Linked DNA regions of Homo sapiens: region 2 is linked to region 1. The links come from fine-mapping of genetic effects on gene expression. A gene starts in region 1. The other region holds a variant in brackets. All regions are shown on one strand. Distances are between the middles of the regions.

What was found. PIP is the estimated chance that this variant, and not a neighbour inherited with it, causes the effect. A credible set is the group of variants that fine-mapping cannot tell apart.
Region 2: its variant is the best candidate, but not a certain one, in a credible set for the expression of DYNLT2B in sigmoid colon (GTEx, PIP 0.54).

Annotation. Positions count from the first base shown.
Region 1 is chr3:196,316,111-196,320,496 of GRCh38, reverse strand. DYNLT2B (dynein light chain Tctex-type 2B) reads left to right here and starts at 2,257. Exons shown (of 5, transcript NM_152773.5): 1 at 2,257-2,457; 2 at 4,266-4,386. The coding sequence starts at 2,345. It overlaps TM4SF19-DYNLT2B (TM4SF19-DYNLT2B readthrough (NMD candidate)), which reads left to right. Exons shown (of 6, transcript NR_037950.1): 6 at 4,266-4,386. It overlaps TM4SF19-AS1 (TM4SF19 antisense RNA 1), which reads right to left and starts at 2,165. Exons shown (of 2, transcript NR_046724.1): 1 at 2,060-2,165. LOC107986031 (a long non-coding RNA gene) reads left to right here and starts at 2,906. Exons shown (of 2, transcript XR_001740547.2): 1 at 2,906-3,523; 2 at 3,655-4,055. RefSeq lists an enhancer at 2,328-2,427 and a silencer at 2,488-2,737.
Region 2 is chr3:196,273,210-196,277,595 of GRCh38, reverse strand. The region is part of intron 1 of PCYT1A (phosphate cytidylyltransferase 1A, choline); the gene reads left to right. Among named protein-coding and RNA genes, the nearest start is that of PCYT1A, 12 kb to the left of the region's middle. RefSeq lists enhancers at 2,635-2,844, 4,013-4,386. The variant A/G (reference allele first, on the strand shown) is at 2,112.

The sequences.
Region 1 (4,386 bases):
CTCAGAGGCACGGTTCTGTCATCCGACAGTCCAACCAGCAGAGCTCGTAGGAGGCAGGTCCCTTCAAACACCACCTCACCCTTTCCTCTCCAGGGCTGCTGGCCTAGCAGGCCTGCCAGGGTGGGGAAGGTGGACACAGAGGCCTGTGGGAGACACAAGGAGGCACAGCCTCTTGAGCAGGCAGGAAGTCTCCAAGTCCAGAGAGCACATCCTATTCCTGCATACAACATCCAGGAAGCTTGCCTGGGCTTGTCTCACATTTCCCTCTTGGCTGGTTAGTTTCAGGGTCATGGCTAGGATATGCCTGATATGGAGAAGCTTCTCTTGCTGGGGAAAGGTACTGACACCTCCACACAACTCACGCAGAATTTTTTTTTTTTTTTTTTTTTTTGATACAGAGTCTCATGCTGGAGTGCAGTGGTGTGATCTCGGCTCACTGCAAGCTCCGACTCCCTGGTTCAAGCAATTCTCCTGCCTCAGCCTCCCAAGTAGCTGGGATTACAGGCACATGCCACCACACCCAGCTAATTTTTGTATTTTTAGTAGAGACCGGGTTTCACAATGTTAGCCAGGATGGTCTTGATCTCCTAACCTCATGATCCGCCCGCCTCGGCCTCCCAAAGTGCTGGGATCACAGGTGCGAGTCACCGTGCCTGGCCAACTAATGAAAAGTTTAAAGAATTTATATCTAGTTTTGGATGTTAGGCATGCACACACAAGTGCATGCACACTCATACACATCATCTCCACAAGCCCCATCCTGGCTCAGCCCTATTCTGATGGGTCAGCAGGACCCCAAGGAGAGAAGGGTGGGTCCTTGGCACTAAGACAGTTCACAGTGGTTAGCTGACTCCTTCTTGCCTCCATTCTTTCAGGAACTGCATATAGTACAGAACATGACAGCGATTCGAAAAACAATATCCCAGCTGGCTGTGATGGCTCATGCCTGTAGTCCCAGCACTTCGGAAGGCTGAGGTGGGATAATCACTTGAGCCCAAGAGTTCAATAGTAGCCTGGGCAGCATAGCCAGATCCTATCTCTACAAAAATTAAAAAGATTAGCCACGCGCGGTGGCATTCGCCTGTAGTTCCAGGTACTCCAGAGGCTGAGGTGGGAGGACTGCTTGAGTCCAAGAGGTCGAGGCTGAAGTGAGCGGTGAGTGTGCCACTGCACTCCAGCCTGAGAAACAGAGCAAGACCCTGTCTCAAGTGGGAAAAAAAAAAAAAGGAATCCCTGCCCTTTCAGCCTCTCCTGTAAACAGGGATTACAGGCACGAGCTACCTCATCGGGCCTTAGTTTTTGAAGCTAGCAGAGGCCAAGATACAACAGCCTTCTAAAACAGGACCAGGGACTGGTGCTTATAAGCAGGGAATGCGGCAGAGTACGATGGCTCACGCCTGTCATCCCAGCACTTCGGGAGACCGAGGTGGGCGATCACCTGAGGTCAGGAGTTGGAGACCAGCCTGGCCAATATGGTGAAACCCCGTCTCTAATAAAAATACAAAAAAAATTAGCCGGTCGTGGTGGGGCGCGCCTGTAATCCCTGCTGCTTGGGAGGCTGAGGCAGAATTGCTTGAACCTGGGAGGTGGAGGTTGCAGTGAGCCGAGATCGCGCCTCTGCACTCCAGCCTGAGTGACAGAGCGAGACTTCGTTTAAAAAAATAAAAATAAATATATATTTTTAAAAGCGGGGAATGCAGCCTAAGTCTCTTTCCTTCCTTCCTTTTTTTTTTTTTTTCTTTTTTTGAGACGCAGTCTCGCTCTGTCGCCAGGCTGGAGTGCAGTGGCGCGATCTCGGCTCACTGCAACCTCGGCCTCCTGGGTTCAATAGATTATTCTGCCTCAGCCTCCAGAGCAGCTGGGGTTACAGGCACGCGCCACCACGCCCGGCTAATTTTTGTATTTTCAGTAGAGATGGGGTTTCACCATGTCGGCCAGGATGGTCTTGAACTCTTCCTGACTCAGGTGATCCGCCCGCCTCGGCCTCCCAAAGTGCTGGGATTGCAGGCCTGAGCCCCCGCACCCGGCCGCCGCAATTACTTCTGCACCAGCCTAATACCTCAAGTCCAGGAGCCTCAGGCCCCGCGTCTATTTCCTCCGACTGCGGCGCGGCTGATACTGCCTGAGGCGGGTGGAAGCTGTCGCGCGTCCGGACGCGACCAGTTCCCGCCCAGCAGCCGGTGCGCAGGCGCGGGCAGGGAGGGCGGCTGTGCGGGGCGCTCGCGGGCTTCAGCGAGGCGGGAGGGCGGCCCTGTTGCCCTGGAGACGCTTTCCCTGCTGCCGGCCGCGACCGCAACCCGCTAGGCCTTCATCGCGAGCTACGCCCGGACCGAGAAGCCCCGGCATGGCCACGTCCATCGGAGTGTCCTTCTCGGTGGGCGACGGGGTGCCTGAGGCTGAGAAGAACGCAGGGGAGCCCGAGAACACCTATATTCTGCGGCCTGTTTTCCAGCAGAGGCGGGTAGAGGACGGGCTGTGGCGGGGCGACCTCGAGCGCGCTGGTCTGAGGGGCGGAGCTCGCCTGGGACCTGGGCCACGGAAGGAGCGCGGGGGACGCGCGGGGTCCGCGGGGCGGGAGGCGGGAGGCCGCGAGGCGGGCGGGCGGCCCTGCTGTGACGTCCGGGCGCCCCTCCCGCTGCAGGGGCCGCAGGGGACCCCACCCGCTTCCTCAGTGTTTGGGCGCCGGGCGCGTCTTAGGGTGGCGCGGCGGGAATGGTTGGCCCTGGGAAACCCGCGATGGCGTCCTGAGTAAGGAGATGGGTAGAATAGAGGCAGGAAGCCACTCGCGTCGGATGCCGTTCAGCCGTGATTCGAGGGTGACTGTGCACACGGGTGCCAGGATGGGCTCACTCCCGGCGCGGGAGCTGCATCTGTGCGAAGTCCTACCCGGGTGGGATCTGGAGGCCCTTAGACCACCGCAGCGAGCCCTCGCTAGGATTAAGGCTCACGGGCCAGAGCAGAGGGTACTCAGCTAGGTTTGTGAGATCACTAACTTTACACACACACACACACACACACACACACACTGAAAAAAATATCAGGCTCACGGGCCAGAGCAGAGGGTACTCAGCTAGGTTTGTGAGATCACTAACTTTACACACACACACACACACACACACACACACACTGAAAAAAATATCAGGCTCACGGGCCAGAGCAGAGGGTACTCAGCTAGGTTTGTAAGATCACTAACTTTACACACACACACACACACAACACACACACACACTGAAAAAAAATGTCAGGCTCACGGGCCAGAGCAGAGGGTACTCAGCTAGGTTTGTAAGATCACTAACTTTACACACACACACACAACACACACACACACACACACACACACACTGAAAAAAAATGTCAGGCTCACGGGCCAGAGCAGAGGGTACTCAGGTTTGTAAGATCACTAACTTTACACACACACACACACACACACACACCACACACACACCACACAACACACACACACACACACACACACTGAAAAAAATGTCAGGCTCACGGGCCAGAGCAGAGGGTACTCAGCTAGGTTTGTGAGATCACTAACTTTACACACACACACACACACCACACAACACACACACACACCACACAACACACACACACACACACTGAAAAAAATGTCAGGCTCACGGGCCAGAGCAGAGGGTACTCAGCTAGGTTTGTAAGATCACTAACTTTACACACACACACACACCCCATATTTGCTTGGCAAATATGGAAAACAGGAATTTTGATTATAATGTGATACAAATTTCTTTGTTTATTTTTATTCTCTTGGTAACTCACAGAAAAAGTGATACAAATTTCATACAGGATTTTTCCCTTGGGTAGAATGAACACAGAGAAAGATACCCTCAGTTATCTTGGTAAAAGGTTCTGAATGCCCAGAATGCCATTCAGCCGTATTTTTTTATTTTATTTTATTTTATTTTATTTTGTGAAAGCGTGCAGAACAAAATTAACAACAAGTATATATTTTGTTTTGGGGGAGAGGGGAGTATGAGAAGCTCATTATTGGATGTATTGAGTTGCCTAATAAACATTCATATGGAGCATGAGTTGGAATGTGTTGAAGTTCAGTGCAGGTCCAGGTTGAAGATACACATGTGGCCTATGATTTGTCTTAATTTGTTTATATTTTATAATAAAAAATATGAAAAAGAAGGATTAAGTGGTACTAATGACAAAAAGATGGGAGAAGTTGCGGTATGAAGGTAAGCTGGGGTTGTGGAGTCACCGACTGGATGTTCACAAATTGTTCCATTCAGGTTCAGGCCCTCTGTGGTTAAAGACTGTATCCATGCTGTGCTCAAGGAGGAACTGGCAAATGCTGAATATTCTCCAGAAGAAATGCCTCAGCTTACAAAACATTTATCAGAAAACATTAAA
Region 2 (4,386 bases), 43 kb after region 1:
CCCAGCCCAGAGTAAAAGTTTAAACAGCAGTAGTTCTAGAGGAAAGTCATGAGGAGTAATCTTTGCATAATTTCTAAATTCTTTTAGGGTTATCATTATGGAATATCTGTGACCCAGATGTTTTCCATCTCCTGAGAAGTGGATGAGATAAAGAAGTGTCTTACACTAAAACCCAAAAAGCAGTGGGTGTGTTTTATTTTAAATCCGAAGGATCTAAAGACTTCAGTTTAAAGAACAGTGTAGAATATAATGTAAAACCCAAAAGTCATCTTTAGAAAATAGAAGAACTGTATGTAAGCAGATAAGGAATAGTATAAACACATAATAGTGTAAGCAGGTAAAGAAAAAAATATATATATTTTTTTGAAATGGAGTCTCACTCTTGTCACCCAGGCTGGAGTGCAATGGCATGATCTTGGCTCACTGCAACCTCTGCCTCCTGGGTTTAAGCAATTCTCCTGCCTCAGCCTCCCAAGTAGCTGGGATTACAGGTGCCCGCCACCACACCTGGCTAATTTTTATATTTTTAGTAGAAACGGGGTTTCACCATGTTGGCCAGGCTGGTCTTGAACTCCAGACCTCAGGTGATTCGCCTGCCTTGGCCTCTCAAAGTGCCAGGATTACAGGCATGAACCACTGCATGTGGCCTTTTTTTTTTTTGAGAAAGGGTCTCACTTTGCTGTCCAGGCTGGAGTGTAGTGGCATGATCATGGCTCAGTGCAGCCTTGACTTGCTGTTCTCAAGTAGTCCTCCCACCTCGGCCTCCCGAGTAGCTGGGACTACAGGCATGTGCCACTACACCTGGTCAATTTTTCGTAACTGCAAATATCCTATTCCTCAGCAAACTTTCACCCCATGGTTTTAGAATCCTGTAGAGCATTTTTATATCATAAGCATTTTTGAGGTGGAGCTCTGTGTGTGTTTTCCATGCCTTAATTGAAGCTTCCTTGAGAAAATAGTTTGTACTTAATTTTTTTTTTTTTTTCATTTTTTGAGACGGAGTCTCACTCTGTTGCCCAGGCTGGAGTGCAGTGGTGCGATCTCGGCTGACTGCAACCTTTGCCTCCCAGATTCAAGTGATCCTCCCGCCTCAGTCTCCTGAGTAGCTGGGATTACAGGAATGCACCACCAAGTCTGGCTAATTTTTGTATTTTTGTAGAGATGGAGTTTCACCATGTTGCACAGGCTGGTCTCAAACTCCTGACCTGAGGTGAGCTGCCCACCTCAGCCTCCCAAAGTGCTGGGATTGCAGGCGTGAGCCATTGTGCCTGGCCTTTAATTTTTTAAATTGATAAATAATAGTTGTTTATATTTATGGGATACAATGTGATACTTCGATATATGTTTACATGTGGAATGATTAAATCAAGCTAATTAACAAATTCCTTGCCTTATATACTTATTTTTTTGTGGTGAAAACATTTAAAATCTACTCTTTTAGCAATTTTGAAATATAAAATGCATTATTATTTATTTTGTTTTGGTTTTTTTTTTTTTTGGAGACGGAGTCTCACTCTGGCGCCCAGACTGGAGTGCAGTGGCACGATCTCGGCTCACTGCAAGCTCTGCCTCCCGGGTTCACACCATTCTCCTGCCTCAGCCTCCCCAGCAGCTGGGACTACAGGTGCCCGCCACCACGCCTGGCTAATTTTTTGTATTTTTAGTAGAGACAGGGTTTCACTGTGTTAGCCAGGATGTTCTCAATCTCCTGACCTTGTGATCCGCCTGCCTTGGCGTCCCAAAGTGCTGGGATTACAGGTGTGAGCCACCGTGCCTGGCTGCATTATTATTTATTATAGTCACCATTCTGTGCAATAGATCACTAAAGCTTATTTCTCCATTCTTTTTTTTTTTCTTTTTTGTTGAGACAGAGTCTTACTCTGTTGCCAGGCTGGAGTGCAGTGGTGCGATCTCAGCTCACTGCAACCTCTGTCTCCTGGGTTCAAGGGATTCTTCTGCCTCAGCCTCCCGAGTAGCTGGGATTACAGATATGCGCCACCACACCCAGCTATTTTTTGTACTTTTAGTAGAGATGGGGTTTCACCATGTTGGCCAGGATGGTCTCGATCTCTTGACCTCGTGATCCACCCGCCTCAGCCTCCCAAAGGCTG[A/G]GATTACAGGCGTGAGCCACTGTGCCCAGCCTGTTTCTCCTTTCAAAACTGAATTTTTGTACTCGACATCTCCCTTTTTGCTCTCCACCCTCTTCTGTCCATCTCTTGTAACCACCATTCCATTCTGTACTTCTGTGAGTTCCACTCTTTTAGATTCCACAAATAAGTGAGGTCATTTGTGGTATTTGTCTTTCTCGTCTGGCTTATTTCACTTAGCATAATGTCCTCCAGGTTCAGTTTGTACTTAAAAATTATGATACAGTACTTTGTAAGCAGTAAGTACTCATATTTTTGACTGCCTGATATTATTGACTTGCCAGATGCCAAATTGCTGATTATATTTCTCATAGTGGATTTTGTCTCTCTACACTTAGAAGAATTGAGCAGATACTTACAGAAGAGTACTGTGCAAATTAGAAAACAATCATTAATTGGATGGATTAGGCATTTTGAGTAGTTCACTCAGACCACTGAGATGAGAGTATTGACCTCTGAATATTATGAAGGAATCATTAAGAACAATAGTGAAGACAAGCTCTGATCATCATCACTGAAAGAACTCGGAGTGAAATGTATAGAACCCTTCTTCCATTTTAATTTGCATTTGTGATGAAAGGAAGTTTCTAGGTGGTGCTCATCTTTCACTTTCGACTCTGACATTTTTTCATGTTGGCCATGACTCATGGGGTGTCACCTTCAGCTTCTAAGAATTAGGCCAGTTTCTTGTAGATCTTGTCATATTGCCACTCGGAGTTGAGCCGGAGGAAAGAAAGTAAGGCACAGTTGCAGTTGTTTAGACGAACATCTCAGTCAGGCTTATGAGAGGCAGTAGGGCAGAGCAGACTGTCCTCATTCTGTCTGGCATTGGTTTTCCACCTGTTCTGAAGATTTTTCTCTGAACCGTATCTTGTGCAGAGATGACAGTTTATCATAGAGTTTCCCCTACCCCCAATTTCTGGCTGATTCCTAAAATTTCATCAGTATCAAGAAAGTAATTTATTTGTACAAATTGTGTTACTTAAGAAAAACGCAACTATCCCTGCAGGGGGCTGAAAAGCCAACATCTAAATGATGGCAGCGGTGGCCTGTCTGGATGGGCTGCTGCCATGATGCCGGCTGCAGTCGGGGAGGCATGGTCTGTGCTGCACGCTCCATGGAGCCACTGGGAGCTGGGAGTAGGTGGAAGCCCTGCCCGTTTCCAAGTTGGCAGGGCGGGAGCAGCCGTGGCTACATACCCGGGCTTCCCTGTGCTTTTGGGGGCCCAGGAACCTCCCCTGCCCCTGCAGGCTTGAAGTGCCTGCTCCCACTGCCTGGCCTCTCCTTGCTCCTGGTGCCTGCTCTGATTTTGGAGCAAAGTTGAGGCCAAGCCTGGGCACTGTCATGACCTGGCTGGGTTTGCGTGTGCTAGGGGCAGTGCTGACATGCCAGCCCCCTTCTGCCTTGGCCCCCTCTGGATTTTGGGTGTCCAGCAGCACAGGAGGGGACGCCAAGGCGGAGCTGAGAGCAGCTCCATTCAGGCCTGCAGGCGCCCCTTCGTGAATAGCCTGGGCGCTGTGGACAGCAGGTTGATGACAGCAGGAGGCAGACAGGCTCCTAGGCGGAAATGGGCGGGTCCCTGGTGAAGCCCCACCTTCAAGCCAGGGATGGCCTGAAGCCTGGGGCCCAGGCTGCCAGTTCTGTGGACTGGAATGAGAACTTACGATGCTTTTTCCGGGCTGCCTGTGGCTGCCCATGGACCAATCAGCATGCACTTCCTGCCCGCTGAAGCCCGTAGAAACCCTGGACTCAGCCATACTTGATGGGATGACCTGCCTGCGGATAGGAGCTTCCCACTCCAGGTCTCCTCTCCACTGAGGGCTGCAGAGACGTCAGGATGACCTGCCTGCAGATAGGAGCTATCCACTCTGGGTCTCCTCTCCGCTGAGGGCTGCACAGATGCTGGGACGACCTGCTGCGGAAAGGAGCTACCCGCTTGGGGTCTCCTGAGGGCTGTTGTGTTGCTCAATAAAGCACCTCTTCACCTTGCTCGTCCTCCAGTTGTCCATATACCTCATTCTTCCTGGACGTGGGACAAGAACTCGGGATCTGCCAAATGGTGGGACTGAAAGAGCTGAAACACAAACAGAGCCGAAACACGTCCTCCCCTCCCCCACTGCTTGCCACGCTGTGGGCAACAGAAAGAGAGAAGAGAGGAGAGAGAAAGAGAAGAGCTGTAGCCCTTTGGGAAGCCCAGACCTAGGAGCTCCTTGAGCCAGGGCTGTGACACCCTCTTTGG